Linked DNA regions of Homo sapiens. The protein of the gene in region 1 purifies or fractionates together with the protein of each later gene. This does not show direct contact. Each region holds a gene or a part of one and is shown in the gene's direction. Other genes may lie near its edges.

The links.
Region 2: the proteins of BDH2 (region 1) and MPP1 purify together in Homo sapiens (affinity purification with mass spectrometry; one large-scale study listed by BioGRID and IntAct). This does not show direct contact.
Region 3: the proteins of BDH2 (region 1) and ZCCHC9 purify together in Homo sapiens (affinity purification with mass spectrometry; one large-scale study listed by BioGRID and IntAct). This does not show direct contact.
Region 4: the proteins of BDH2 (region 1) and POLA2 purify together in Homo sapiens (affinity purification with mass spectrometry; one large-scale study listed by BioGRID and IntAct). This does not show direct contact.

What each region holds. Positions count from the first base shown.
Region 1 is NC_000004.12:103,077,902-103,085,426, reverse strand, and holds part of BDH2 (dehydrogenase/reductase SDR family member 6), read left to right. Parts: coding exon 1-78; intron 79-2,497; coding exon 2,498-2,556; intron 2,557-3,253; coding exon 3,254-3,346; intron 3,347-5,671; coding exon 5,672-5,725; 3' UTR 5,726-7,525. UniProt on the Homo sapiens protein: NAD(H)-dependent dehydrogenase/reductase with a preference for cyclic substrates. Catalyzes stereoselective conversion of 4-oxo-L-proline to cis-4-hydroxy-L-proline, likely a detoxification mechanism for ketoprolines.
Region 2 is NC_000023.11:154,783,833-154,791,986, reverse strand, and holds part of MPP1 (55 kDa erythrocyte membrane protein), read left to right. Parts: intron 1-139; coding exon 140-218; intron 219-918; coding exon 919-1,004; intron 1,005-1,964; coding exon 1,965-2,033; intron 2,034-5,586; coding exon 5,587-5,783; intron 5,784-6,829; coding exon 6,830-6,936; intron 6,937-7,878; coding exon 7,879-7,959; intron 7,960-8,154. UniProt on the Homo sapiens protein: Essential regulator of neutrophil polarity. Regulates neutrophil polarization by regulating AKT1 phosphorylation through a mechanism that is independent of PIK3CG activity.
Region 3 is NC_000005.10:81,302,193-81,310,346, forward strand, and holds part of ZCCHC9 (zinc finger CCHC domain-containing protein 9), read left to right. Parts: intron 1-1,017; exon of another isoform or gene 1,018-2,011; intron 2,012-2,548; 5' UTR 2,549-2,565; coding exon 2,566-2,949; intron 2,950-6,368; coding exon 6,369-6,519; exon of another isoform or gene 6,520-6,753; coding exon 6,754-6,846; exon of another isoform or gene 6,847-8,154. UniProt on the Homo sapiens protein: May down-regulate transcription mediated by NF-kappa-B and the serum response element.
Region 4 is NC_000011.10:65,266,262-65,274,415, forward strand, and holds part of POLA2 (DNA polymerase alpha subunit B), read left to right. Parts: intron 1-320; coding exon 321-445; intron 446-1,215; coding exon 1,216-1,307; intron 1,308-2,410; coding exon 2,411-2,468; intron 2,469-8,154. UniProt on the Homo sapiens protein: Accessory subunit of the DNA polymerase alpha complex (also known as the alpha DNA polymerase-primase complex) which plays an essential role in the initiation of DNA synthesis.

The sequences.
Region 1 (7,525 bases):
CAGCCGTGATTGGCCTCACAAAATCTGTGGCTGCAGATTTCATCCAGCAGGGCATCAGGTGCAACTGTGTGTGCCCAGGTGAGTAAGGCACACCTGTTTTGTAAGCAAAGTTTTACTGAAACACTTCCACACCCAATTTGCTTATGTTATTGCCTATGGCTGTTTTCATGCTACAAAGGCAGAGTTTAGTATAATAGTTGCAACAGATAAAATGACTCTCAAAGCCATAAATATTTTTTGTCTGCCTCTTTACCAAGAAAGGTGTGCCGATCCCTCATACAAAGCAAAGAAGAAAAGCAGAACTTTCCTTTTCTTAATAACTATAGGGGTGTGTCTCATTTTCACAATAACCGTAGATGTGTTTATTAAATTGATATGTACTTTTACCTGGTTCTACCAATCTAAAAGGAACTTAAGGTATCTAATAAGGATTATAATATTCTTTAAAAAGAAATGATTGCATATCCAGGATCAAGGTTTCCCTTGGTAGTGCACAATTGATAATGGGGGGTGGTGTGTGAAAGGGAAACATTTCAATATGACCTGGGGACCTTTCAAACCTGAAGGGCATGCCAGAATTTAGGGAAGGAGTTCATGGAGAGAATTGTGTGGTTTAGAAAGACCCACAAGAGATTCTGATTGAATCTTCAGTTGAAACCCACTGACTTAAAGAGGGGAAACTAAACATCCCCCAAGCTACAGAATTTCAGCGATTGAGATGTTCTGTTTTATTTTTCTTGGAACAGAAATGTAAACGTAGGTAACGCTAAGAAAAAGAAGAATGCATGAGAGGTCATTTCATTGGGTTTTAATGTACATCCTGGCGATACTTGAGTCTAGCTATTCTTGGTGCCATTTACCCAGTGGAATAAGTGGTAAAATGATTTGGAAAATGTGGTTGTTTCAGCGACTGGACTTATCAGGAGATTGGAAAATATGTTATCAAACTCTTTGGAACAAGGAACTAGCTGTGACTCAGTGAACCAATCACAGAAGAAAACTTGAGGAGGACTGAGTATGTCTGAGATGCTGCTGATGGTTGTATAGTCACAAATCTCCAGCCAGACTTGTGTAGACCCTGGCATAGTATGTCTGTGCCATGGACACAGCTGAACCCAGTGACATTGGAATACTCTAAAGGCATGGGCTTGCTCTACAGTTCTTATTTAATAGCCATTAGTACCAGTCATATGTAAGATATGATGTTCATTTACCTCAGAGGGAGAAAGCTATTAAAGCTGTAAGATTCTGAAGGAGTGTTAGTGAAAGCTTGAGGTGCACACTGTTGGTAAAACTGTGGACTTTAAGGAGGCTATTGAGGAAAGTGAGGAAAATATTATTGAAAATTAGAAAAAAGAGTGTCTTTGTCATACAGTTTCAGAAAGTACATCAACACTGTTGCCTGTAGTGTGAAGGTAGAAGATGTTCCTAATGAACTGGGTGATCTAATTAAGGTGATTTCTACCCAGAGTCTTGAAAGTGCTGGCTGCTTATAGTAAAATGTGACAAGAGACAGATAACCAACCTAAAGAGGGGGTTCCAAAATGGAGTCAGGCTTTCTGATTTTGAAGATTTCCAGCTTCATCAGAAAAAAATAGCAAATGATGCTAAAATTAAGAAATGTTTTCTGAATAAAGATCAAATCTATGGCACTCTCAGGAACATGATCTAAGGGTGAAGTATGACTGTAAAACCATTTGTTACAACCTCAGAAAGATCACATTATTTGCCAGAGTACTCTTTAGTCTGAAAAAGGGCCCTCTAAAGAGAATGAACAGTTTATGTCCGTTAACAAAAAAGTCTGGGTAACGTGCTCTAGGAGACCATAAACTAAGTGGAATTTTAAAATGTTAGCGTTGTTCTTATTTTTCTTTTTTAAAGTAAAATAACTTTAAATTAGATTAAATTATATTTTTGATTAAAAACTTGAAACTGTGGTTAAAAGTAGGCATTTGAAACAATGAAAATAGGCAAGGTGATAAGAAAAATTTAGCGCCACCTGAATTACCAAGGACTATGGTAGCCATGGGATTGTCCCCAAAGATGCCACAGTGAACTTGACAGCAAAGAATGGTTTTGAGATCATTGAGGCAAACTGGCTCCTTAAGCTGGCAAAGTGCTTGTACGATTTTATCTACATCTCAGGGTTATTGTGAGGATTAGCTGAGATCATATGCATAAATGTATTTAAAATCCATAAAGCATCATATAAATGCAATGTGACTAAAATATATGTCCTTGAGAATGCTGGGTGATTCATCCAGAGTCCCTACATAGTGTCACGAAGAATCATAGTCTGTGTTTTTAAAATCATAGAAATGTTATTGAAGAAATTATAAGCCTATTAAATAAGAGGCCTCAGGCAGGCAGCTGTAAAGTTGTCATTTTAAGTCAAGGAGAAGAATCTCACTGATTGTCATATGGAAAGGAAGTTTAGTTATCGATTTCTTTTTCAGTGAAAGTGAGTAACCAAGCTGAATATCCCCCTTTGATTTAGGAACAGTTGATACGCCATCTCTACAAGAAAGAATACAAGCCAGAGGAAATCCTGAAGAGGTACATCTAGCATTTAAAATGTATTTAAACCTTTTGTTAATAAATGCCCTCTTCCATACCTATAGCAGACAAATTCATAGAGACAGAAAGTGAAATGGTAGTTGCCAGGGGCTTGGAAGGAGGGAAAAGAGTAGTTAATGCTTAATGAGTAGAGAGGTTCCATTTTGTAAGATGAAAAGAGTTCTGCTTGGGAAGCTGAGGCTGGGGGATCGCTTGAGCCCAGGAGTTTGAGGTACAACAGTGAGCTATGATCACAACACTGCACTCCAGCCTGGGCAACAGAGCAAGACTCTGTCTCTAAGAAAAAATAATAATAATAAAAATAAGAGTTCTGGAGATGGACAGTGGTGATGGTGGCACAACAGTGTGAATGTACCTAACACTATTGAACTGTACACTTAAAATGGTTAAGATAGTAAATTTTATATTCTGTATACTTTACCACAACTTTTGAAGATGAAAAAATAATGCCCTCATCCTTTAACATTAGCTTTCTGATGTGTCACAATATCTGTGGGTTTTAGTATAACACAAACAATTTGAGTAACTTTGGCAAAAGAATCACCATAACCCTAGTTGATTATTCATCAAGGCAGCAAGCCAGTGGATTCTCTTGCCTTTAACTCCTTGAACAAGATGCAGGTGAGCACATACAGCTGCTTCCATCACTAATGTCTGGTATGGTCTCTGGTCACAGGCACGGAATGATTTCCTGAAGAGACAAAAGACGGGAAGATTCGCAACTGCAGAAGAAATAGCCATGCTCTGCGTGTATTTGGCTTCTGATGAAGTAAGCACTATTCTTCCCAAGGAGTTCATTACCCTCAATCACATTTGGCCACAATTTGCTCATCAAAATAATATCATTTTAGAGAGTTTGTGGCATATATGTGCTAAGATGCTACATTTATAAGATAGGGATAAGTTCTCATTTAATTTGCTCAAAGAAAGACCACTTCGATCTGAGCCACTAATTCTTCCTTATTCAGCTTTACATAAAATCTTGTAGCAAACAAAATGGAGGACTAAAAAAGTTAAAGTGCTCAATTTTCTGAGAGACAGTTCCTTTCAAAAATTATAATTGGGGAAACCCTGATTAAATGCAAGTCAAAAAATTGAACCTCCAGGATTATAAGAGCTCTAAGTGAAATGGGGAGAGGATTAAGCAGATTTGTGTTCAGTGGACACAGAATTCGCATGTGGTGTTTTAGTTTTACTTGTGACTTGTTTGGGAGAATTCCACTGGCTCTTTTTTCTCTATTAATTCTTACTTGTGGCCGGGCATGGTGGCTCATGCCTGTAATCCCAGCACTTTGGGAGGTCGAGGCAGGCGGATCACCTGAGTTCAGGAGTTTGAGACCAGCCTGACCAACATGGTGAAACCTCGTCTCTACTAAAAACAGAAAATAGCTGAGCGTGGTGGCGGGCGCCTGTAGTCCCAGCTACTCGGGAGGCTGAGGCAGGAGAATCGCTTGAACCAGGGAGGCGGAGGTTGCAGTGAGCCGGGATTGCGCCACTGCACTCCAGCCTGGGTGACAGAGTGAGACTCCGTCTCAAAATAAATAAATATTTTTAAAAATTCTTACTTGTTCATCATCGTGTATGGAAATTCCTAATTTAATCTCTTCCACTTTGCATCTGTTTAACAGTTTTTTCCTTAATAACTATTGTTTACTTTTAAATGGCTTAAGATGAAAGCAAAAATGATGCTTATAAGGTATAGAGCACAAGAAGGTCCTCCTCTGTTTTATGTCTCTGAATACTACAGGAACAAGGAACTGTAATGTGTGAGAAGAGGGAAGGAAAGGGGACTAGGCGGGAGCGAGGAGGGAACAACTGATAGCTCCTCTTCCCAGTAACTTGGTGCACACCAGATAGTTGGTGAATGTGACAAATACAGGGATTGAAATGTTTCCGTGACAGCGCAGTTTCTTCTCAGAACTTCTCCCAACTATTAACAACAATTGTTAATAGCTGGGGAAATTAATAGACAAATGTTTAATGAAGAAGCACATGAGCCTTTGTGATTTCTCTGAATCCGTATCTTCAGAATAGCTCATTTGATTTGGGTACTGCTGATAAGCTAAATTACCCTTAGTTAGCCAGAGCTTAGGTTACAAGATATTTGGAAGTGTTGTGGCTTGAAATGTGCTACAAAAGTACCTTTGGCTTTTTAGAGGTTTCCAGAGGAGTTCATATGTGTAACAGAGCTTGTCTTTTAAAAGAACTTGGGGGAGTTGGAGGTATTTCTTTGGTGAAGTGACTAATAACTCCCTAGTTCACCTACTGTATATTATCAGCTTTTATCTATTGAACTCTTAAAATTTCTCTATTCATTATGATATCCTTACTTCCTCTTCCATTGTTTCAGGCTTCAGATGAATTTAGACTGTTTGAGTCTTTATTATCCATTTTAAGTTAAAAGATTTTTAAACTTCTACCAAAAAGATCACTTCAGCCTTATTTAGAAAATGAAAAATTTATGGGAATAAACCAGTAATTATTTTTTAAATTCCTTAGTTTTATAAAGATTTGGATATCTGAAACTAATATAGAATATTTTTATAGCTTAATGGATTATAGTTATTATCATTCATGTAAATTTTTAAAACACATTTAGTGTGCTTCAGCTCCTACAATTATCCACTTATAATTGATCAACTAAATATATGCTGTCTTTTTTAAAAAACTGGTCATTAATATGACCATTTTATGACTGATACACTTATGTTCAAAAGTTTATTAGTGGCATAAAACTTAGCTAGTTTTGAATAGTTCTGAGTTTCAAAATGAAAATGTGCTTTTAGCCTATATCCTAATTTGGGGAATGGCTATACATCACTGTTCCTTAATTTGGGGATTCTGAGACCAAATACCTAACAGTGACAGGTGCTTAGACACCAGCCAGAGGCCATTTAGTTCCAGATCACAGGACACTCAGCAGTTCTAAATCAACCAAATGTTAATTTGGATTTCCCTGAATTAAGTGTTTAAGTGAGGTTTCCTGTTAGGACAAGGGTAAATTGTTTAGTTATCCTAGTCACAGGAAAATTTCAAAATACAGCCTGTATCAAACCTGGTTAATTGTTCTGTCTCCTTGTGTTTATCACTGCAGTCTGCTTATGTAACTGGTAACCCTGTCATCATTGATGGAGGCTGGAGCTTGTGATTTTAGGATCTCCATGGTGGGAAGGAAGGCAGGCCCTTCCTATCCACAGTGAACCTGGTTACGAAGAAAACTCACCAATCATCTCCTTCCTGTTAATCACATGTTAATGAAAATAAGCTCTTTTTAATGATGTCACTGTTTGCAAGAGTCTGATTCTTTAAGTATATTAATCTCTTTGTAATCTCTTCTGAAATCATTGTAAAGAAATAAAAATATTGAACTCATAGCAGGAGAATAGTTTTTAAAATAAATCTCGATTTGTTAGCATCTGTCTTAGTCACTTTGGGCTGCTATAACAAATTACCATAGATGGAGTGTCATAGACAACAAACATTTATTTTTCAGTCTGGAGGCTAGGAAGTGCAAGATAAAGGTGCCAGCAGATATAGTTTCTGGTTAGGGCCCACTTCCTGGTTTGCAGATGGTCCTCTTCTTGCTGTATCCTCACATAGCAAGAGCAGAGAAAAAAAGCGAGCGCTCATGTGTCTTTTTATAAGGACACTAATCCTGTTCATGAGGGCACTACCCTTATGACCTGATTACCTCCCAAAGGCCCCACCTCCTAATGTATCATATTGCAGGTTAGGATGTCAACACATGACTCTGGGGTGATACAAATAGGCCATTGCAGCATATACAATTAAAATGTAAATATGAAGAAAAAAGGAAGTTTTTGTTTTTTTGTGGGGGAGATGGGGGTTAAGGAAGAAGATAGTAATTTCAGGACTAGGCATGGTAGCTCATGCCTATAATTCCTGCACTTTGGGAGGCCAAGGCAGGAGGATCACTTGCGGCCAGGAGTTCAGGACCAGCATGGTTAACAGAGGCTAAGGCAGGAGGATTACTTGAGCCCAAGAGTTTGAGGCTGCAGTGAGCTGTAATCATGCCACTGCACTCCAGGGTGACAGAGCAAGACCCTGTACCTAAATAATAATAATAATTTCCACTTCATTTTTCAATATTCAAATATTTTTATATAATTCTGCATTGTTCTGTATGTAGATCCTAATTTTAAAATTTTACACCATCATAAATGAACAAAGGTAGGAAGGAGTTTGGCTTCAATAGCTTACAGTAAAAGGAGTAAAGGAGTTCAGCCTCAAAACGATATTGTTGACCTGTTATGTTATGAAAAATAATCCAGTGTTTATACTTAACGGATGCCATCCCTTATTATTTACTATTTTCTTAGTCTAACTAAACAATCTTTATTAAAATAAGCAATGATATTTGACATGGGCCTAAGAAATATATAGTTAGCTAACAATATTGTCAGTTAGAGGGATTTCTTTTCTAAATTAAGTACAGATTTCTTCACCAAACTCCAGGATAACAGAAAAGAGGACATAAAATTTGGACATAGTTTCTGGATAAATAAATGTAAATTTAAATATAAATTATGTAACAGGAAACAAACGAAATTAAAGAAAATAAATTTTTCAAGAAAAGTAAATTTATGGATGTTAATTCTGTAACATTGTCAGGGCAAAGTTTTTTGTTTTTATTTTAATTTAAGGGTTTTATGTTTGTTTTTTACTTGTTGCAACCTCAAATGACCAAATGGTATGATGCACACTGAGATACTCAATAAATGTGCAGTGATTCTTAGCCTTTTTTCCTAGAACTTTAATATTAACATGGAAAATTCTGAAATGGACAACAAAAAGATAACACTTTGTGTATGGGGAAGAATATCATGCAGTTGATGACGGTACATTAAAATTCACACAAAAGGACATTTTGACTAGCATTCAGAAAGAGTCCATTGATTATAAGATTATCTATGAGGTTTTGGACCGG
Region 2 (8,154 bases), on another chromosome or scaffold:
GCTTCATGCCTGTTCTAGTTGAGGACTATCCTGGGTATAAATGGAAAATATTTTCCTGAGAAATTACCGTAAGTTCTTTCTAAAATAACCTCAGAAAGAGCTTAAAATAAAGCTTATTGTGCCGTCGCCTTTATTTCAGGGAATCACGCTGAAGCTGAATGAAAAACAGTCCTGTACGGTGGCCAGAATTCTTCATGGTGGCATGATCCATAGACAAGGTACTCTGTGGGAGCTCTGGGTGGGGTTTGATTCAGGGATTAATAATTTACTCCCTGTTCAGTGGTGTGGGGCATGAAGCTTATAATCCTCCAAACTGGTAGCATTTTTGTGAGTGTGCCAAGAGACTTTTTGTGGCTTAATAACTGGCTCTGTAGAATCAGTACATGATAAGATCTCTATGTGAATTGCCCAGTGCCACCATCTCCCTATCTGAGCCTTCTTTCACACCTATTTATACCAATATTTTTCTAGTAAGTTAATATTTGAGCAATTGCCACATGCCACCCATTGCATTAGACTTGGAAAGGACAGCAGTACCACTTGGTAGCATTTTGGGGTTTGAGCTAAACAACAAAGAAACATGGAGCTTGCTGGTGAAAGAGGAGTACTGAGTTCTTTGCCTTGCTTTGTTATTCTTTTTAGTGTATACATCTGTGTCATAGTCTGGAGTCAGTAGCCACTCTAGTTCCAGGAATTTGAGGACAAGGTGTTTTATTGTGCTGTTGGACTACTGAGGCCAAGGAGGATGAGACCATCTTAAACTGTCAAGTCAAATGTTTTCAATCCTGAGTATTTGACACAATCTGTTTCATAACATGCTGTAAATCCTGGTTTCTCTTCTATGGTATCTTGAGTTACATTGACAGCTCCTGTTTGAACTTTTGTTCTTTTGTGGATTGATTTTTCATTTCATGGCAGGCTCCCTTCACGTGGGGGATGAGATCCTAGAAATCAATGGCACAAATGTGACAAATCATTCAGTGGATCAGCTGCAGAAGGCGATGGTGGGTATTTTCTATGCTAGATGAAGACCTTCCATTGTCTCCATAAGTGTTGATCCACATTGGTATCAGTGACCTCATCTCTCTGTCAAAGTATTTGTACCTTCTTGAGGGGGCTCTTTTCACTGCTAGTCTTTAATCTGTGTAAGAAATGATAATTTTCTGCCTTTATTTAGTAAAATTCTAAAGCAGGGCAAATAACCCAGAGCATCAATCTGGTGTTCCATGAAGTAATGCCAAATGAAGTAAAGCAAGCTATAACGTATATAGTAGAATCCCATTTTTGTTAAAAACAAACAATACATATGTATGCATAATGTATGTAAATATTTGTAATGCTTTTGTTGGTATGGGGAAAGGCGTGGATATATATGCGCCATAGTTCATTTTTAGGAACTTCTTCAGGACTTTTTGGGGTAAAGAATGGGGAAGAAAAGTCTTTTTTTTTTTTTTTTGAGATGGAGTTTCGCTCTGTCACCCAGGCTGGAGTACAATGGCGTGATCTCGGCTCACTGCAACCTCCGCCTCCTGGGTTCAAGCGATTCTCCTGCCTCAACCTCCCAAGTAGCTGGGATTACAGGTACCCACCATCACGCTGGCTAATTTTTGTATTTTTAGTAGAGACAGGGTTTCACCATGTTGGCCAGGCTAGTCTTGAACTCCTGACCTCAGACGATGCGCCCACCTCAGCCTCCCAAAGAGCTGGGATTACAACAGGCGTGAGCCACCGTGCCCAGCTCGGAAAAGTCTTTAGTTAGCTTTTCTTTGTTACTCTTTGCATGTCTTCATATTGTTATGCTGATTTATGGGGCACATGACACTTTTGTATTAAAGGAGGAATTGTCCTACAAAATCTCAAAATGTAAAGATGGTTGTTGGGGAAAAAAACCTGGGACTTTGAATGAATGATCACATCATTCAACTTAGTTTTCTGTACAATTTTATGTCCATTTTTTTTAATAGAAAGAAACCAAAGGAATGATCTCATTAAAAGTAATTCCCAACCAGCAAAGCCGTCTTCCTGCACTACAGGTGGGTGGCACCATTTTCTCTGTTGTCATGATGGCAGGAGTCGGGCCATGTTGTCTTATATTCTTTGAAATTTGATTATAAGGGATGTGAGTCTAACTTTAAGTTCTAAGTATCTCGCAAGTGTGTAGCTGCTTGGCTCAGGGTCCCATTATTCCCTGCCTGGTATAAAATACAGGAGCTCATTCCCCTTTCCTCAATGGAGAACATAGTGACGACAGGAGTAGAGAATGAATGAGCCTTTGCTGCTAGTGGTCAGGTAGGAAGGGAGAGGGTAATTTTATTCTACAGATGGTAAGGAATCAATACAGCTCCAAGAGGAAAATGGGTAAAGGGAATGAAGAGATCATTCACAGGAGGAAAACTACAAATGAGCATTGAACATATGAAAAAATATTTTATCTTACCGATCATCAAAGAAATGCAAATTAAAATATGCATGAGACACCAGTTTTCACCAAGCAAATTGGCAAATACTTTTTAAAATAGCAATAATAAAGCCCCGTGATTGATAGTGGCAAAGTAAAGAAAGAAACAAAAGATAGATAGAATCTGTTGAGCACTTATTCACAATTTATTGAGGGTCTACCATGTACAAAGTACTGTGCTAGAACATGGAGGTGATATAAAGAGAAATGGTTCCCAGTTCACACATAGCTCATCAGCCAGTAGAGGAATAGATTGGACAGGGCCATGGCAAGTCAATGTGGAAGAAGGAGATATTTAAAAGAATAAATCTGAAGTTTCTATTGCAGGTTACTTGTAGTGTGACGGTATAATTTTCTTAAGTAAACTTTTAAATTGCAGTTTTGGCATATATGGGCATATATTCAACAAAGGGCACAAATCACAAGTATAAAACTGGATGAATTTTCACAAACTGAGTACACCCATGCCTAAGACCGCCGCCCCCTCACCATGCGTGTTTCCTCAAGGCCCACCATAACCCTGACTTCTAACAGCAGGGATGAGTTTTGCCCCCTTTTGAAATGTATTAACGTTGAATTATACAGTATGAATTCTTTGGTGTCTTATTTTATTCGCTCAGTATTATGTTTATGGGAATCATCTATATTGCTTCATTCTCATTCATTCATTGTATGAACATGCTACAATTTAATCTATTCTGTCAGCTTTTTTGGTCTTACATTGAATGGCTGCCATTCACCAAACAGGATCTAATTCAGCAATATGAGAAGATTTACTGCCTGAAGGGCAATAAATTCACCACGTTAACAGAAAAATGGAGAAAAATCATATGATTTTTGTGCATGTGTTTTGTGGATACATCTATGCCTTTCTTTTGAGAGTAGAATTGCCAGGTTGTAGGATATATGTGTCTTCATCTTTAGGTGATATTGCCAAATAGTATTCCAAAGTTGGTGAACCATGTTACATCCCCAACTGCACAGTATGACAGTTCTGGTTGTTCTGTATTCTCACCAATACTTAGCATTGTCTGATTTGTTGGGTTTTTTTTCACCCTTTGGCCATCCTGATGGTGGTATCACATTGTGATTCTAAAAATTCTCTAATGACTAATGAGGGTAAACTCCTTTTTATATGTTTTTTTCCACTTGGATATCCTCTTTTGTAAGATACCAATTCAAGGCTTTTCTTACTGATTTGTAGCAGTTCCTCATATATTCTGGATAAGAGTCCTTTGTCATATGCATCCCAAGTATGTTCTCTTCTTCTGTGGCTTATTTTCTTCATGGTTCCTGTTAATGACTAGAAACTCTTAATTTTAATGAAATCCAATCTACCACTTTTTTCTGATTAGCACTTTTTATGTCTTGTTTTAAAAGTTTTTACTTACCACAAGGTCAACAAGATATTCTCCTGTGTTTTCTTCTAAATGCTTACTTGTTTGATTTTTCACATTTGGATCCACAACCCATCTGGGATTGATTGTTATATACATTGTAAGGTAAGAGGTCAAGATTCCAGTTTTTCCATATGGATACCAATTGAACCAGTATCATTTACTGTACACTGTCACTTTTGTCATGGTAATATTTACAGGTCTATTTTGGAACTTTTTATTCTTTTCTTTTGGACTGTTTGTTTATCCCTGTGTCAAACCTACATATCAGTTTGGATAAAAGAGGCATCTTCACAGTATCCCAGTGGAAGTGATGATAGCAGACATCTTTGTTTATTTTTCCATCTTAAAGGGAAAGCTGGCCAGGTGTGGTGGCATGCGCCTGTAATCCTAGCACTTTGGGAGGCCGAGGCGGGTGGATTGCTTGAGCCCAGGAGTTCGAGACCAACCTGGGTAACATAGCAAGACCCATGTCCTTTGAAAAAGGCAGGGAAAGCTTTTAATCTTTCACTGAGAAGTATGACGTTGGATGTAGGGTTTCTGTAGGTATTCTTTCTCACAGTAAAGAACCTCCCTTCTATTCCAAGTTTGCTAAGAATTTTAATCTTGAATGGGTTTTGAATGTTATCACAGGCTTTTTCTGCATCTATTGAGGGGATCATATGATCTTTTTCCATTTTTATGTTAACGTGGTGAATTTATTGCCCTTCAGGTAGTAAACCTTCTTATATTGCTGAACTAGATCCTGTTTGGTTGTGATTTATTATACTTTTTATACATAACTAAATTTGACTTGCTGATATTTTGTTTGGGGTTTTTACATCTCTGTTGCAGAGAGAAATTATAAGATTCTTGTCAGATTTGGGTATCATGCTTATAATGAGTTGGGAAGTGCCATCATTTTCTATAATCTGTTTTCGTATGAGATTAGCCTTCTTTCTTCAAATGATGCTTGGAAAATTTGTCAATGAAGTAATGAGGTAGGTGTGTGTGTGTGTGTGTGTGTGTGTGTGTGTGTGTGTGTGTGTGTTTGGGAGCAGGAGAGGAGAATTTTCAATAATAAATTCAAGTTCTTTGATAGATATGAGTGTCCATATTTTCAATTGTGAAAACAGTTGTTCAAAGAGTAGCTGCCCTGTACTGAGACAGACGACCCAGATCCAGCAGTAACTGTGGACACGTTGACGTGGAAAGATATCTCATGCCTTCTTTTTTTTTTTTTTTTTTTTTTTTTTTGAGACGGAGTCTCACTCTGTCGCCCAGGCTGGAGTGCAGTGGCACAATCTCGGCTCACTGCAAGCTCCACCTCCCGGGTTCAAGCGATTCTCCCGCCTCAGCCTCCCGAGTAGCTGGGACTACAGGTGCACGCCACCACACCCAGCTAATTTTTGTATTTTTAGTAGAGACGGAGTTTCACCATGTTAGCCAGGCTGGTCTCCAACTCCTAGCCTCATGTGTTCCACCCGCCTCGGCCTCCCAAAGTGCTGGGATTACAGGCGTGAGCCACTGCGCCTGGCTTCTCATGCCTTCTTGTTAAAGGGATTCATTCTGACCCCTCCGCAAACACAATCACTTCAGCGTTTCAATTTCTCTTTCTTGGGTGCTCCCCCACCATTCTTACCTCCCTGTTGTTCATTCCATCCTGACCCCATTTGTCTACAGCAGGACATGCTCTGATGCTGGTGTTTCTTTTGAAGCTGCCGCCTGCAGTTCCTTTTACCTTCTTTTTAGATGTTCATGAGAGCGCAGTTTGACTATGATCCCAAAAAGGACAATCTGATCCCTTGCAAGGAGGCGGGACTGAAGTTTGCTACTGGGGACATTATCCAGATTATCAACAAGGATGACAGCAATTGGTGGCAGGGACGGGTGGAAGGCTCCTCCAAGGAGTCAGCAGGATTGATCCCTTCCCCTGAGCTGCAGGAATGGTGAGCCATTTTTGTGCAGGTGGAAGGGCCATGTGCCTGCCACAAATAACTTAGCTTCAGAAAATCTGTCATTTTGTTTGTAGTTTCTGTTTCTCAACCAAGGAGACCTCCTAGATTTCCTGGCATAATGGGTGGGGGAGGGTTAACCATGCGTTGATAAGCTGGACTGAGAGGCAACCACAGGCAAGGGAGCCCAAATAGCTCTTCATTCTTATGTGGGCCTCTTGCTTCCTTAAACGTTTTCCCCATAGTTACCAAGCACGTGACAGTGCTGGGACTGAGCCCTCCCTGGTCTCCTGTTTCCCAAGCTAGTGCGCTTCTACCAGCCATGCTGTTTCTGGGATTTCCTTGGAGTCCTGCAGAAAACAGTCGCATTTAAGTATGTGTCCTTTAGGCACATTCCTGGTACATGGAAGAAATAATTCCTGTCCCCGAGTCAGATTGCTCACTTAGTCCTGGTTACATCATAGGAATGGCAGAAAAATTCACAAAACAGTTCCAACTGATAAGACATCCAACACTGAGCCTCCCTCTGCCTGTGCAAACTTACCCCAGTGTAAAGATTACAACCATTGTGGGGTTGACACTGAATAGAAATATTAGAATATATTACATGTAGTAATACAAGTTATTGTTTTGTGAAGCAGTTGTTTTAGATATATATGTGGGGTGTGTGTATGTGTTTTGTTTATAGATGTATGTGCAATAATGGCTTGCAATGTACAGTGTATTTCTTAGAGTGAGGTAGGGTCATAAAGGTTTGAGACCTTTATGGTCTAGACCAAAGAAAGAGAGTTGTTTGTGGGTTGTGTCCAGAATGTGCTGACAGGTACTAGATGACACAGACTCAAGGAGCCAGGTCCCTGACTGAGGGCAGGGCACAGTGCAAGATGCACCAAACAGTGTATGGGGTGCTTTGCACACATTATCTCCCACTGTAATGGACACTCAGAGAGTGAAGGGGGTGCCATTAGAGACTGAGTGGCTGGGGGGGGTATGAGGGGAGGGGGAGGAAAGCTGACCCCTTGATTGTCTTTTCCTACCAGGCGAGTGGCAAGTATGGCTCAGTCAGCTCCTAGCGAAGCCCCGAGCTGCAGTCCCTTTGGGAAGAAGAAGAAGTACAAAGACAAATATCTGGCCAAGCACAGCTCGAGTAAGCTTTCTGAGCCTTCTTGCCCCAGGTTCCTGGCAGCATTCACGTGTTTCCCAGTCTCTGTAACCAGCAGAAAAGGGGAGGTGGTGCAGTGCGCAGCAGAAGGCGCATTCTACAGAAAGCATGTCATTTCTTCTGGTTTCTTTTTATTGAATCCATCTTCACAAGCTTGCTGCAGTCAGGCCAGTGGATGTAAAGGAGGACTAGTGGTGAGCCCACACCTGCTCATCACCCCACCCCTCACACAGAAGTAGATGTGGTGGGAGAGGGGAAGTGAGGCAAGAACACAGGCCAGAGGGAGAGGCCAGGGCCAGGTCATAGGGAGCTTCGTGCACCCTCCCTAGCGTTTTAAATTTTGCACTATAGACTGTGGAGCTGGTGAAGGGTTTTGAGCAGAGAATTCGCACGGTCAGCTTTCCATCTGCATTTCTCTTTTCTGAGACGTCACGTGCACACCACCAGCCAGGGAATGATCGTGGCAGTCTTGGGTTGTAGGCAGGTAAGGGGGTGGAGAGTCAGGATGACACCAGGTCTCTATCTTGAGCAGCTGGGTCAATAGCACCACCATCTTCTAAGATAAGGGACATTCAGGCAGAACCGAGATAGCATTGGCATTCTTCAGCTCTAAGTGCCAAGGGAACATCTGATACTGAAACTATGGAGAAGAGATGAGGACAGGAGACAAGAAAAGTTGGCTCAGAGAGATAGGGCAAGGAGGAAGAGAGGGTGCAAAAGTTAGATAAACTCCCTTGCTCAAAATTCCCTCACCACACTAAAAATACAGTCCAAAGTCCTTCCTCCACACCAACCTCCCTCGTCTCATCTCTAGTCACTTCCTCCCTGCTTGTTGAGATGTCGCGAGGCTGTTTCCCATTTCAGAGTGTGGACCACTGTTCTCCCTAGCTCTGGAAATGAACACTGCTTGGTTTTCTTTGTCTCTAGTTTTTGATCAGTTGGATGTTGTTTCCTACGAGGAAGTCGTTCGGCTCCCTGCATTCAAGAGGAAGACCCTGGTGCTGATCGGTATCTTCTCATTGCCCCATTTGCACATTTCTGTCTTTGTTTTCCTGCCTGCATCACGTGCCCACCCCCAAAAAAGGCAGTGAGGAAGAAAAGAACTGAGGTCTCTTGGGTTCTCCATATAGAGCAGGTGTAAGGAATTTTCTGAATCCTCACGTGCACCCCACCTGGGTCCACCTCACAAATGAAACTAAACCT
Region 3 (8,154 bases), on another chromosome or scaffold:
CGGGCGCGGTGGCTCACGCCTGTAATCCCAGCACTTTGGGAGGTCGAGGCGGGCAGATCTCCTGAGCTCAGGAGTTCGAGACCACCCTGGGCAACATGGTGAAACCCCTTCTCTACTAAAATACAAAAAATTAGCTGGGCGTGGTGGCACGCGCCTGTAATCCCAGCTATTCGGGAGGCTGAGGCCCGAGAATCGCTTGAGCCCTGGCGGCAGAGGTTGCAGTGAGCCAAGATCGCCCACTGCACTCCAGGTTGGGCTACAGAGTGAGACTCCGTCTCAACAACGACCACAACAACAACAAAAAAGGTGGTGGCTTAATACAGCCATGCTCCCCTTAAGAACTGGTATAGTTATGAGAAATGGTTGGGCCGTTTCGTGGTTGTGTGAACATCATAGTGTACTTGCACAAACCTACACAGCTGGGCCGTATGGGATAGCCTGTTACTCCTAGTCTACAGACCTGTACAGTATAACTACTAAATACTGTAGGCAGTTGTAAAAGGATGGTGTGTATCTAAACACAGAAAAGATACTGTAAAAATATAGTGTAAAAGAAAACATGGTACAGCTGAATAGGGCACTTACGCATGGAGCTTGCAGGGCTGTCGGTAGCTATTAAGTGAGTCAGTGAGTGGTATGTGAGTGTGAAGGCCTACGATATTATTTAGGGTATTACTGTACACTACTGTAGACTTTATAAATGCGGTATGCTTAGTCTAAGTTTATTAAAAATAAGGTAATAACCTTAGCTTACTGTGCTTTTTTAACTTTATAAACTTTTAAATTAATTTTAACTCCTTGACCTTTTTTTTTTTTTTTTGAGACGGAGTTTATTCTCTCTGTCTCTCATTTTTGAGACAGAGTTTTGCTCTTGTCACCCAGGCTGGAGTGCAGTGGCGCAATCTCAGCTCACTGCAACGTCCACCTCTTGAGTTCAAGCGATTCTCCTGCCTCAGCTTCCCAGGTGGTGCGCGCCTGTAGCTGGGACTACAAGAGTGCGCCACCACGCCCAGCTAATTTTTGTATTTTTAGTAGAGATGGGGTTTGACCATGTTGGCCAGGATGGTCTCGATATCCTGACCTTGTGATCCACCTGGCCTTGGCCTCCCAAAGTGCTGGGATTACAGGCGTGAGCCACCATACCCGGCCCACTCTTTTGTAATAACACTTAGCTTAAAATGCTAATGTGTTGTATAGCTATATAAAAATATTTTCTTTATTCCCTTACATTATTCTATAGCTTTTTCCTGTAAAAATTTTTTTTGTTGTTATAAACTAAGACACACACATTGTGCCTACACCGGGTCAGGAGCATCAATATCACTCTTTTCTTCCTCCACATCTTGTCCTACTGGAAGGTTTTCAGGGGCAGTAACATGAATGGAGCTGTCATCTCCTATAATAACTGCTTTTTTCTGGAATACTTATAATTGTCTAGTATTATGTACAGTACATCATTGTAAGCATTATGCTTGTATATGACTGGCATCCCAGGTTTGTTTACACCAGCATTACCACAGACATGAGTAATGTGTTACACTACAAGTTATGAGGGCTACAAAGTCAATAGGAATTTTTCAGCTCCATTATAATCATCTGAGACCAGTATCATGTGTGCAGTCGCTGTTGACCTAAATGTTATGTAGCATGTGACTAGCTGATGAATCTTTGATTATGGCTGAATGTTCTCATTCATTGCAGGAAAAAAATATCCTCCAAATCACTAGGTAGTATGTAAGTGACCAAAACTTTTTTCCATTTTATGTTGGAGCCAAATCATTAGTGTTAGGATAAATTACTTCTTTATGTATGTGCTCTAAAATGAAAAGTTATTTCTGAATATTAAAGCATATGTATTAAGAGTATAAAAACAAGATACAGATTTTGGTGTGAAATATATCTTATGATTCAAGTCATAATTTAAATAGAATTGAAGATGATGTGAAATCACTGGGCTGGAAGTAGCTTATACCTTGATTAGTAAGAGGAAGCCCGGGATCATCCTGTGATGGTAAACACTTTTATATGTTTTACTTATAACTTTGCCAGGAAATTTCAACAAACTTCATATTAAAGGACATGATTTCTGTATACTTAGTAATCTGCTATGCAAATTGTTGCATTGAAATGGCAGACGAAGCAAGAAGATTGGGAGAAAGTAGCTGTGGGACTTGGAGATAGGAAAATAAACAGCCGGGAAAACTGCAGAATGTGGGAGGAATAATTGCATTCATTGTATTACTATCTGATTTATATTTTATGAAATAATTTGGTTTCTTAAGATAGTTTTTCAATTTTAAGCACACCTTTTTTAACTGGTGTGGCAGCTTTTCTGGTAAGTGGTAGATTTATGTTAGAAGCATGTCTATGCAGCATATTATAGCATTAAATATGTATACAGATATCTAACTGAAATAAAAAGTGTTTTAATAATTAAAAGTTTAACATATGGGCATATGTGACATATAGTGATATAGCATGTCTCTTTAGTTTTGTTGTTTTTGTTGTTGATGGCTAACCACCCATGCTTGTCTTAAAAATTGATAAGGTACCACTGATGAAATTATGACCAGGTGGGCCCGAGTTAGTACCACATATAACAAGAGACCCTTGCCTGCAACATCATGGGAGGACATGAAGAAGGGATCCTTTGAGGGAACAAGCCAAAACCTACCAAAGCGTAAACAACTTGAAGCCAATAGGCTATCCCTCAAAAATGATGCACCCCAAGCAAAACATAAAAAGAACAAAAAGAAAAAAGAGTACTTAAATGAAGATGTGAATGGATTCATGGAATACCTAAGACAGAATTCACAGATGGTTCACAATGGGCAAATTATAGCAACAGACAGTGAGGAAGTAAGGGAAGAAATTGCAGTTGCTTTAAAGAAAGACAGTCGACGGGAAGGAAGAAGATTAAAAAGACAAGCGGCAAAGAAAAATGCAATGGTGAGAGCATCACTTCTACCATGTTATTTACTTTATTTAGCTGGAAACTATTCTTATATTCACACACATATATACCTTAGCCAGCTCTGGTTACCATTATGTCCCAGATTTATAGAGCATCGTTTTAAGGACTAGTACTTTTTTAGCACATATATGCTAGGCACATGATGTACTGGTTAATTATTACAACAACACAGCAAAGGTGATGGCATATATTCCCATATTATGGATGGCAAACACTGAAGTGCAGATAGATTAAATAACCTGTGGAAGCCACTTAGCTAGTAGCAGAGGTGACATTCAAACCCAGCCTGACTTCAAAACCTACGTTATAGACCAGATGTGGTGGCCCATGCCCGTGATCCCAGCACTTTAGGAAGCTGAGGCGGGAGGATCACTTGAGCCCAGGAATTAAAGACGAGCCAGGGCCACATAGGGAGACGCCATGTCTACCAAAAAAAAAAAAAAAAATTAGCCAGGTGTGGTGGTACACACCTGTGATCCCAGCTACTACTGCCAGCTGAGGCAGGAGGATTGGGCCTGGGAGGTCGAGGCTACAGTGAACCATGTGATCAACCGCTGCATTTCAGTCTGGGTGACAAAACGAGAGTTCGTCCTCCAAAAAAACCAAAACCTATCCTCACCTTCCAATAGCCCCTTTTTCAAATTAGCATTGAGAAAATGTCAAAATTATGAAGAAGATGAAGTAGAACAGGTTAAATGTGTGTGGGTCCCTATTACTTGGAAAGGATGTTCTTTATCTATGAAATACTGAAGCACAGGAAAGAGATACATAGGAGTCATACTAGTTAGAGCAGAGTAATAGCAGAATTGAAAGTCCTTGAGACTCCCTAGTCATTGCTTCCTCCCTCCCCCATATTACATTCAGAAGAATGCTGGGGGCAGCAGGTTTCTTTCTCTAATGCCTAGCCCTAGATTTTAAAGTATGTCAGGCAAAGGGGATGAAATACTTGGTATAATTATTTCCCTTCTCTAAGTGAGTTTCCCAAGCCTCCTAGTACACCACTTCATAAGAATGAGGACTTGTTGCTAGTTATTATACTTTTATTTTTTATTAGTATTACTATATGTAGAGCACTGTTTGCACCATTGCAGGCTTAAAATGTTAACAGCCTCTATAAATGTGTCTTTTGGCTGTTTGCAAGATTAGTCTATGCATTGTTATATTTAAAGATAGTTATTTAGAGATAATACTGATGAAACATTCCTTATGGATAAATTTGAATAGAAAGGATAACATTTCTGTTGGTATCAGGATAGAGTTTTGTGTAAGTTAACGATTTTTAAATATTTTAAGTCATTTTAGTTTAGTTGACATAGGCGGTATGGTGAATCACATACCATTTGAAAACATTTACTGTTATGACCGCTTAAGAAAAGCATTATGTTTGTAATTAAGTGGGGAAGGATATTGTTTTTTAAAAAGGGGAGTGCTATATAAATAGTATATGGCTTGTTATGACCTGTTGTTAAATTTACTTCCTTGGTATTTTTTTAATACCTTATACTAAGCATCGGTCCTTAAATGCTAATAAAATGATATGCTATAGAAATTTACAATCAGTGCTTCACAATCCCATCTACATTAAACTTAAGGACCATTCAAAAATGTTGTATTAGGTGATGATTAGGTTTTAAAAGAGAAGGCAGTGAACTAAGGCAGTAGTCTCAGCTTAGTAGAGACCACCTTGACTTCACCAAGAAGCCAAGACTTCTTATGGTGGTGATGCAGGTTTTAGCAGTAGCTTTTCCTGCATTTGTATAATAAATACAGCTTCTTTTTTTTGGACCAGCTCATTCTAAATGTACAAGTTACTGAAGAATTTAAAGGGACTCATTCTTTTTCAATATTTTATTAAGTAGGAAAAAAAGGACAGTTGCAAAATAAATGTTTTATTTTGCTGGTTGAATTTGCTTTTTAAAAAAACCTGTGCTTATTTTGAAAAAACATAATTAAATGACTATTTATTATCCAAGAAATATGTATATCTTTTTCCAGTTTAAATAAAATAGTTTAAATATCTGCCATCTTTGATTATGGTTGATGTTCTCATTTATTGCAGCAAAAAAATTCTTCAAATTTCTGTAAACAACTAACCATTGCTCAGTTTTATGTTGGAGCCAAATAATTCATCTTGGAATAAATTATTCCTTTAAAATGTATTGTGCATATATTCTAAAAATGAAACCTATTTCTGAATATTAAAGAATGTGTATGGCTGGGTGTGGTGGCTCATGCCTGTAATCCCAGCACTTTGGGAGGCTGAGGCAGGTGCATCAGGAGATCGAGACCATCCTGGCCAACATGATGAAATCCCATCTCTACTAAAAAATACCAAAATTAGCTGGGCGTGGTGGTGCGTGCTTGTAATCCCAGCTACTTGGGAGGCTGAGGCAGGAGAATCATTTGAACCTGGGAGACGGAGGTTGCAGTGAGCCGAGATCACGCCACTGCACTCCAGCCTGGTGACAGCGAGATTCTGTCTCAAAAAACAAAAAAGTATTTAGGGTAAAAAACAAGGATATACTTTTTGCTATGAAATATATCTTATGGCCAGGCGTGGTGGCTCATGCCTGTAATCCCAGCACTTTGGGAGGCCGAGGCGGGTGGATCACCTGAGGTCAGGAGTTCGAGACCAGCCTGGCCAACATGGTGAAACCCCGTCTCCACTAAAAGTACAAAAATTAGCCAGGTGGTGGTACACACCTGTAATCCCAGCTACTTGGGAGGCTGAGGCAGGAGAATCACTTGAACCCAGGAGGCAAAGTTTTCAGTGAGCTGAGATTGGGCCACTGCACTCCAGCCTGGGTGATGGAGTAAGACTCCGTCTCAAAAAAAAAAAAAAAAAAAAAAAAAAAAATCTATCTATCTATCTATCTATCTATCTATCTATCTTATGGTTTGAATCATAATTTGAATGGAAATGTCTGACCCAAATTCATTCAATTATGTGAACTTTAAAAGAAATATTAATTTTTTAAAATTTTGAGTACATAATTATATACAAATACAAATTTTGAGTGACAGTTTTTATAGCCACTGTCCATTTCCTATAGAAAATGCCATTTTTCTACTGCAGACATTCCAGTTAATAAAATGAATAGTCCATATTTGCTCAATTCATTTAAGCAATTGCCGTCTACAAAGCCACATATATAACATTGTTCCTGAGATTTATGGATTTATTGATTGAGGTTTTCAAAAGCAATGAAACCCTCTGATGGAAAGGATATCTCGTTGTTTAGGAACGTATGAAAGCTTTTTTCTACAAATATTGAGATTTCAGAAAAATAGCTTAATAAGATGAGAAATGTTTTAAATATGTTTTTGATAACAAGAATTAATAAAGTCACTGGTATAGTTTTGCAGCGTGCCAACCTACGTTTTGTTTTCCTAGGTGTGTTTCCATTGTAGAAAACCTGGTCATGGAATTGCAGATTGCCCCGCCGCCCTTGAAAATCAAGACATGGGCACTGGGATATGTTACAGGTGTGGGTCCACAGAGCACGAAATAACCAAGTGTAAGGCTAAAGTAGACCCGGCTCTTGGTATGTGTTTCTTTCAGTTTTTTGTTTTGTTCATGGGGAAAGCCAATAAATAGCACCTTGGGTATTTTTTTAACACAATTTGTTACGAGTGTGCCACTTAGTATTTGGAAATCATATGAGATTAAATTTTAAGTTATGTAAATATATTTTTTATTCAGAGTATTTTAAAATAATGTTAATTTTATGACTTGCCATATGTATTGTCAACTGAATAGGAACTGTTGATTTTTACAGGCGAATTTCCTTTTGCAAAATGTTTTGTTTGTGGAGAAATGGGGCACCTGTCTAGATCTTGTCCTGATAATCCCAAAGGACTCTATGCTGATGGTAAGTACTGTTACCCTCATATAGCAGAAATGGTGAGTCATCGTGCAGTTGTGATTTAATTTACACTCAATCACAGTTCTTGAATAAATTCTTGAATAAATTGCAAAACCTTGAGAATTACATTATTTTTATCAAGTGCTATCATATGTACTAGGCTTTTTGTGCAATTTGACTTCAGATGTTAATAAAACAAATCAGAAAAAACTAAGGTGTATATTTCCAACTGTGCTTGCTTCATCATTTGTGAGACTATGTCATACATTTCTACTTTTAGACATAACAGAAGCAGAGAGATTATATCTCAAGCTAATATGAGGTTTTTAAAATCGTATTATATATTCAGCCTCAGCCAGCATATCATTTTGGTGGAGGGGTGGGTACAGATGATTCAATATTGTAGTAATGTTTGCTTCTGAATTTTTTTTCTTAGTTATTTGTCTGGTATGGGATCATGTAGCTTTTTTCTCTTTAACTCGGGTAATTAAGGTTCACACAGTAAAGTCTATGCGGTCTAAAGCTTTAAGGCGGAGGTTGTTATCTGTTAATGTGATGGCTGGTGCCATCAGGCTCTAGACGTTTCTTGTGTCATGTCCTGGGTTTCCCTCCTGGAGAAGTCCAGTGAAAAAGCATAGCTTTTGGAGTTGGTCAGACTTGGGTTACAGCGCCAGCACTGCCACTCACTAGCTGGGGGGCTTTGGCCAACTACCAAACTCTGATCTCCGTTTCCTCACCTATAGAGTGGAGATGATAAAACTATATTTTATTGATTCTAAGATGCACAGTTTTTCAATTTTAATCTCTTGGAAATCAGAATGTATCTTACCGTTGGTGGGTCCCATATAATTGACAGCTGTTTTTCTTTCTGAGAGGTATGTGCAATAATGATACATCTTATAATCAGTGGTGTCTTAGAGTTGATGAATTATGGTATTTGCCTAAAGAATTTTTATAAGGATTAAAATGTATTATTCAAGTGCTTCTCTTTCACTATGGCATATAAAGAGGCCAGGGCCTGGAAAATGCTCAGGTGCATTTCAGTTTTGAGCTTATAAAACTGGGTAGATAACATGACTAGTGAGCAAAAATGGCTTTCACTGGTCAACCAAAGTGACTAGCTGTAAAAAAAAAAAAAAAAAAAAAAATTAATGCAGCAAGGAGAGTAGATCCCATAGATGTGAAAATTTGGCCATATTTGCCTGTGTGTGCCTTGATTTTATACCTTGTAATCTTTTGTTTACAATAAGGGGCTTTCTGCGATTTGTTTTAATTTAGAACACTTTAGTAGCAATAGAAACACTGGATACATTT
Region 4 (8,154 bases), on another chromosome or scaffold:
AGTCCTATCCAGAGTCCAGCCACTTCTCGCCATCTCCACTGCCACCACCTTGATCCAAGCCACCATCATCTCTCACCTGGGCTTTTCCATGATTCTTTAATTGGTCCCCCTGATTCTGCCCTTATCCTCTTTTGTCTCCCCTCAGTGGTGAGCTTTGTAAGGACAAGGATGCTTCTGTTTTCTCATTGCCCAAAACAGTGCCTGGCACTAATAGATTCTGAATAAACATTGATGGAGTAAACCAGGATTATTTTTGCTTTTCTAGGTGAAACTTCGAGAAATGAACTAAGTTTTTACTTGTCCAATTTTCCTTTCTACAGTGGTAGAGCTTTGTGTTCAGTATGGACAGAATGAGGAGGGAATGGTAGGCGAGCTTATAGCCTTCTGCACCAGCACACATAAAGTTGGCCTTACCTCAGAGATCCTGAACTCTTTTGAGCATGAGGTAAGAACAAAATGAAAGCAAACTAATAATGTGATTCTCCATTTCTGCTCTACAGGGGAGGCATTGTGATATATTGAGAGGAGTGTGGGCTTTCGAGTCAGGCCTGGATTCCAGTCCCAGTGTGAGCTTGGACAAACTATGTCCCTGAGCCTCAGTTTCCTTTTCTGACATTGGGTCTAATAATCTGTATTTTTTATGATTGTTATAAGAATTAAATGGGGCTGGGCGCCGTGGCTCATGCCCATAATCCCAGAACTTTGGGAGGCCGAGGCAGGCAGATCACAAGGTCAGGAGTTCAAGACCAGCCTGGCCAACGTGGTGAAACCCTGTCTCTACTAAAAATACAAAAATTAGTTGGGCATGGTGGCAGGCGCCTGTAATCCCAGGTACTCGGAAAGCTGAGGAAGGAGAATCGCTTGAACCGAGGAGGTGGAGGTTGCAGTGAGCTGAGATTGCGCCACTGCACTCCAGCCTGGGACAGAGCGAGACTCCATCTCAAAAAAAAAAGAAATGAGAATGGACATAAAGCACTTAAAACTATGCCCAGCAGGTGATAAGTCTTCACCAAATAATTGGTATTATTAGGATTGTTATATGTTATAGACAGTCATGGGATGTCTTTGTTTTTAGTCTGTGTGTATCTTAATTCTTTGAGGAATGTTAGATCTTTGATTATATTTTGAATACCTTTTATTATCTCAAGGCTTTTGAAAACACCTCTGCTATTACTTGACTATGAAGTACTGTATTCACTATCTTTTCTTTTTCAGTTTCTGAGCAAAAGATTATCGAAAGCCAGGCATAGTACCTGCAAGGACAGTGGCCATGCAGGAGCTAGAGACATTGTTTCCATTCAAGAGCTGTATCCTTTTCTGCTGAAGGTCTTTGCACCAAGCTACATGTTGTATTTTATAATTTGTCTGTAGTCGCATGTGTAATTTAAAAACAAATAATAAGGCCGGGCACGGTGGCTCAGGCCTGTAATCCCAGCACTTTTGGAGGCCGAGGCAAGCAGATCACTTGAGCCCAGGAATTTGTGACCAACCTGGGCAACATGGTGAAACCCTGTCTCTATCAAAAGTACAAATTTTTTTTTTTTTTTGAGTTGGAGTTTCGCTCTTTTTGCCCAGGCTGAAGTGCAATGGTGCAATCTCAGCTCACTGCAACCTCTGCCTCCCAATCTCAAGTGATTCTCCTGCCTCAGCCTCCTGAGTAGCTGGGATTACAGGTGCACACCACCACACCTGGATAATTTTGTATTTTTTTTGGTAGAGACAGGGTTTCACCATGTTGGCCAGCTGGTCTCGAACTCCTGACCTCAGGTGATCCGCCTGCCTAGGCCTCCCAAAGTCCTGGGATTACAGGCGTGAGTCACCGTGCCCGGCCAAAGTACAAATTAAAAAATAATAATAATAAGCTGGGTGTGGTGATGTACGCCTGTAGATCCAGCTAGTTGGTAGGCTGAGGTGAGAAAATCTCTTGAACCTGGGATGTGGAAGTTGCAGTAATCTGAGATCAGGCCACTGCACTCCATCCTGGACGACGAGGAAACCCCATCTCAATAATAATAATAGTAAAAATTGCCTAATATTGAGATTTCTTCTAGCAATCAGCCCTTGCCTTATATGAAAGTTTATTATTATTATTATTATTTTTTTTTTTTGAGATGGAGTCTCGCTGTGTCGCCCATGCTGGAGTGCAGTGGTGTGATCTCAGCTCACTGCAAGCTCCGTCTCCTGGGTTCATGCCATTCTCCTGCCTCAGCCTCCCGAGTAGCTGGGACTACAGGCGCCCGGCTAATTTTTTGTATTTTTTTTAGTAGAGACGGGGTTTCACTGTGTTAGCCAGGATGGTCTCTGTCTCCTGATCTCGTGATCCGCCCATCTCGGCCTCCCAAAGTGCTGGGATTACAGGCATGAGCTACCGTGCCCAGCCATTATTGTTTTTCTTAACCAGTGTTCTTAGAATTGAAGTGGAAGAAGAAGAGGAAATCCTCTTGAACTCTTACACCACACCTTCAAAGGTAAGTAAACAGTGTTTGGACATTGCATTTTACAAGTAACATTTTAAAATAGTTTCACAACATTTGAAGATCTGAGGGAAAAAATCAACCACTCTCATGCATTTCCTACTATATTTCCACTTATACATCTTCCTTTCTGATCATATGTCTAAATGTTTTACATAATGGCAGTCCTTATAAACATATAGTTATCCTGCTTTTCTCAGCACAACATAAAACATTTCTATAAACATAATTTCTCCATAATTGCCCTTTTTGAATAGTTTCATAGTTTTATACTATAATTGAATAATTCAGTTCTGTGTTGGATCCCAGTGTGAAAGGTCAAGTAGGGTAGTGGAAAAGCATTGCCTTCAAAGTCTGAGTCAGAAGACCTAGGTGACCTGGAGTGAGTTGTTTTATCTCTCTGAGACAGTTTCCTTATCCATAATATCAGGATTCATTCATTCAGTTATCCAGCAACAACTATGTGGCCAGGCGCAGTGGCTCATGCCTGTAATCCCAGCACTTTGGGAGGCTGAGGCAGGCGGATCACGAGGTCAGGAGATCGAGACCATCCTGGTTAACATGGTGAAACTCTGTCTCTACCATAAATACAAAAAAAGAAATTAGCCGGGCGTGGTGGTGGGCGCCTGTAGTCCCAGCTACTTGGGAGGCTGAGGCAGGAGAATGGCGGGAACCTGGGAGGCAGAGCTTGCAGTGAGCCGAGATCGCGCTACTGCACTCCAGCCTGGGCGACAGAGCGAGACTCCGTCTCAAAAAAAAAAAAAAAAACAACAACAACAACTATGTACTGCACTAGACATTGAGTAAACAATGGTGAATGAAACAGACATGGATGGGCTCTGCCCTCAAGAAGCTGACAGCCAGTGCACAATATCCCCCATCTTGGAGGGCTTGAAGAGGAAATAAATAGGTAAAGTATCAGGCCCTATGCAATGTATTCAGTAATGGTAACTATTCTTTATACTAACTAAATAAGTTTGTAGACATTCATAAACATGGAGTGAGCCTTAATTATTCAAAGTAAACTACATCATAAGAAAGAGGTAATTTACATTGCCCTATGCAATGTATTCAGTAATAGTAATTATTCTTTTTTGTTGTTGTTGTTGTTGTTTTGAGATGGAGTTTTCCTCTTGTTGCCCAGGCTGGAGTGCAATGGCACGATCTCGGGTCACTGCAACCTCCGCCTCCCGGGTTCAAGCAATTCTGCCTCAGCCTCCTGAGTAGCTGGGATTACAGGCATGCGCCACTACGGCCAGCTAATTTTTGTATTTTTAGTAGAGACGGGGTTTCACCATGTCAGCCAGGCTGGTCTCGTACTCCTCACCTGCGGTGATCCACCTGCCTCGGCCTCCAAAGTGCTGGGATTACAGATGTGAGCCACCGTGCCCAGCCCAGTAATTATTCTTTATACTAACTAAATAAATTTGTAGAAATTCATAAACATGGAGGGAGCCTTAATTATTCAAAGTAAATTACATCATAAGAAAGAAGGTAAGGGCTGGGTGCAGTGGCTCATGCCTGTAATCCCAGCACTCCGGGAGACCAAGGCAGGAGGATCAGTGACCAGAGATCATGCCGCTGCTCTACAGCCTGGATGACAAAGTGAGACCCTGTCTCAGGAAGAAAGAAGGTAAATAGTTTAGATATGCCTGTGGAGAGTAAGAGGGCCAAAAATGTGCCCCATGAAGTTGCTAACACAAAACCAGGTGCATATAATATTAAAAGAAATAATTAGGTGTTTGTTAGAGTTTCTTAAAATTGGAGAGACTATAACTCATTTGATTTTCCTCCTAAAGTGGTTTTCTGAGTCCATATCCCAGTGAAGGACACCTCCGTTCTTCCATTGACTCAGGCCAAGAACCTTGGAGACCTCCTTAAATCCTTTTTCTCTCACACCCCACATCCAACTTAGCTACCAGTCCTGTCATCCCTCTCCAGGATCTGGCCACCTCTCACCATTTCCACTGCTACCACCAGGTCCACAGCATCATTGTCTCCTGAATGATTGGGACAGCCTCCTAACTAGTCCATTGGCTTCTTTCTGCCATATCCACCTCTAACCACCTCTCCACCCAGCAGCCAGAGTGCTCCTTTCCAGCAAAAGGTCAGGTTTTCTTGCTCACATCTCTCCCACTGGCTTTTCGTCTTTCCTCCTGATATGCAAAGTTTGAACCAGCATATGTGAAGTTCTGTAGGAGCTGGCCCCCTCCTCCTTCTGTCCTCTTTCCCTGCTCCCCTTTGCTCTCTGCTTCTGCCGTGCCAAATATGGGTTCATTTCCTATGTCTCCTTGTCAGGGAACAAGCCTGCCTAAAAGAACAAAGCCCTTCTTCTGTTTTATTTTCTTGCTTTATTTTTCTCCTTATTATTCTCTTGCTTTATTACCACCAAACATGTTATATACTTACTTTTTTGTTTTAGTCGGCCTTCCCTCCATTAGATGGAAGCTCCTTGAGAATAGAGACTTTGTTTTTACTTGCTGCTGTTTTCCCAGCACCCTGGCATGTTAATAGTTGTTGAAAGATCTCTGAATAAGGGAGTGTGGTTGGCTCTCTCAATTGCAATACCAATGGGACCACCACGGTTTTATCTGGTTAACAGCTTCACAGATCCAGAATTTTATGTAATTTGTCTGTGTATCCAGAATTGATCATATTCCGGAGTCTGACTCATGGTAACCCAGCTGTCAGTAGACTGATGCGTAAGCCAGGTGCAAATTTGTTTACTTTACTATTGAAGTAGATACCCTTCCAATGACTGAAATCCCATATTTAGGATACCCCATTCCTGCTATGGAAATACTTAGGAGACTAAATTGTGAATCAAAGTTTGTGACTGTGAGGCCGAGTGCAGTGGCTCACACCTGTAATCCCAGCACTTCGGGAGGCTGAGGCAGGTGGATCACTTGAGGTCAGGAGTTCGAGACCAGCGAAACTCCATCTCTACTCAAAAAATTAGCTGGGCATGGTGGTGGTGCCTATAATCCCAGCCACTCAGGAGGCTGAGGCAGGAGAATCGCTTGAACCCGGGAGGTGGAAGTTGCAGTGAGCCAAGATTACACCACTGCCCTCCAGGCTGGATGACAGAACCAGACTCCGTCTGAAAAAAAAAAAAAAAAAAAAGTTTGTGACTGTGAATTCCACGCTAAATGAGTTGGAGTGAAATGTTGAGCAAACAATATGTCCAGGCTAGAGATACGTAAAATGCTTAGAACAGTACTTATCACATGGAAATTGTTCAGTCACTGTTAGGCCATGCATCAATGGCAGCATGATAAAATAGTCAAAGTGTGGCCAGGCATGGTGGCTCACACCTGTAATCCCAGCACTTTGGGAGGCCGAGGTGGGAGGATCACTGGAGGTCAGGGGTTCGAGACCAGTCTGGCCACCATGGTGAAACCCCATCGCTACAAAAGTACAAAAATTAGCTAGGCATGATGGTGGGTGTCTGTAATCCCAGCTACTCGAGAGGCTGAGACAGAAGAAACACTTGAACCCAGGAGGCGGAGGTTGCAGTGAGCTGAGATCATGCCATTGCACTTCAGCCTGGGCGAGAAAGTGAGACTCCATCTCAAAAAAAAAGAAAAGTGTGAATGTTGGCCTTTCCATACAAACAGTGCCAGGCTGAGGTTGCCTGACCCTTGTCAGGTCTTGGGAACAGGTGTCCCTCTGCTATAGAGGTAAATATGATATGTCAGTGATTTTAGCTTATCACTATTAAATATTTCACCTGTACGATTGACAGCTGTTCTTTTGCTTCCGTGTTCACCATAAATCTGCTGATGATTTGGCTGCCATGTCCCTAACGGAGAGAATGTGTTAGCCTGAGGACTTGACGTTCCCATACCCTTGGCAATTATATTTCTAGTAAATTAATAAACTGGCATCCTTGGTTATAATTTGATTTTCTCTGTGAGTGTGAGAATGTGCTTACCCTAGGATATGAAAATATGGTACCATTGGTGACTACATTTCTGATTAAAAATGATGAAACCGGCCACTGCGGTGGCTCACGCCTGTAATCCCAGCACTTTGGGAGGCTGAGATGGGTGGATCACCTGAGGTCAGGAGTTCAAGACCAGCCTGGCCAACATGGTGAAACCCTGTCTCTACTAAAAATACAAAAATATTAGCCGGGCGTGGCAGCGGGCGCCTGTAATCCCAGCTACTCGGGAGGCTGAGGCAGGAGAATTGCTTGAACAGAGGCGGAGGTTGCAGTGAGCTGAGATCGTGCCACTGCACTCCAGCCTGGGCAATCAGAGCAAAACTCCATCTCAAAAAAAAAAAAGAAAAGATGAAACTAGCCAGGCGCAGTGGCTTATGCCTGTAATCCTAGCACTTTGGGAGGCCAAGGTGGATGGATCACCTGAGGTCAGGAGTTCGAGACCAGCCTGGCCAAAATGGCAAAACCCCATCTCTACTAAAAATACAAAAATTATCCCGGCATGGTGGCACATGCCTGTAATCCCAGCTACTCAGGAGGCTGAGGCAGGAGAATTGCCTGAACCCAGGAGGCGGAGGTTACAGTGAGCTGAGATCATGCCACTGCACACTCCACCCTGGGCAACCCTCCGTCTCAAAAAACAAAAACAACAACAACAAAAAAACATGATGAAATTGGCATTAAGTGTTAATAATGAATCGTATGAGCTTGGTTAAAGGGAGCGCATCCTTGAGAACTGGTACTGGAGTTGGTGAACACTATTGGATTTCAGCCCTGAGGCTGAGGACTAGAACACCAGACTGTGCCTTGTTTACCAAAGTGCTGTCACCTTGCCACGTCTTGCGAGACAGACTGTCATTCTCTCAAAATATCCCTGCCCCACAACACTGGCCGTGGAGTGTTGTAGCCCACTGTATATTAGGAGAATCTTTTGGAGGGATAGTTTGAGAAAATGTGTTAAAATTATAAAATCTTTTTTTTTTAATTATAAAAAAAATAAAGGCAGGGTGTCACTATGTTGCTCAGGCTGGTCTTGAACTCCTGAGCTCAAGTGATCCTCCTGCCTCAGCCTCCTAAAATGCTAGGATTACAGGCACGAGCCACCATCCCTGGCCAAATTCATAAAATCTTTTTCTATCATTTGACCCAGTAATTCTCCCTAGGGGGAAAAAAAAAACTCTTCTGAAGAAATAATTCAAATTATGGGAAAAGCTGTATGCATGAAGATACGCATTTTAGCATTTTTTTAATTTAAAATCTTAATTTGCCAAATCACTTTTCACCTGAGACTCAGCATTACTTGTAATCACTGAAAATTACAAGCAACCCATAATCCAGCAATAGAGAAGTAATTATGTAAATCATTGTAGGTCAGTTTAATTAAATAACACAGCTACTAAAAAGGATAAAGACCTGTAATCCCAGCACTTTGGGAGGCCGAGGCAGGTGGATCACCTGAGATCAGGAGTTCGAGACCAGCCTGACCAACATGGCGAAACTCACATCTCTACTAGAAATACAAAATTAGCTGGGCGTGGTGGTGCATGCCTGTAGTCCCAGCTACTCAAGAGGCTGAGGCCAGAGAATCACTTGAACACGGGAGGTGGAGTTGCAGTGAGCTGAGGTTGCAGTGAGCCGAGATCGCACATCGCACTCCAGCCTGGGCAACAAGAGCGAAGTGAAATTCCGTCTCGGAAAAAAAAAAAGGGAAAAAGATTGGGTCAGGTGCAGTAGCTC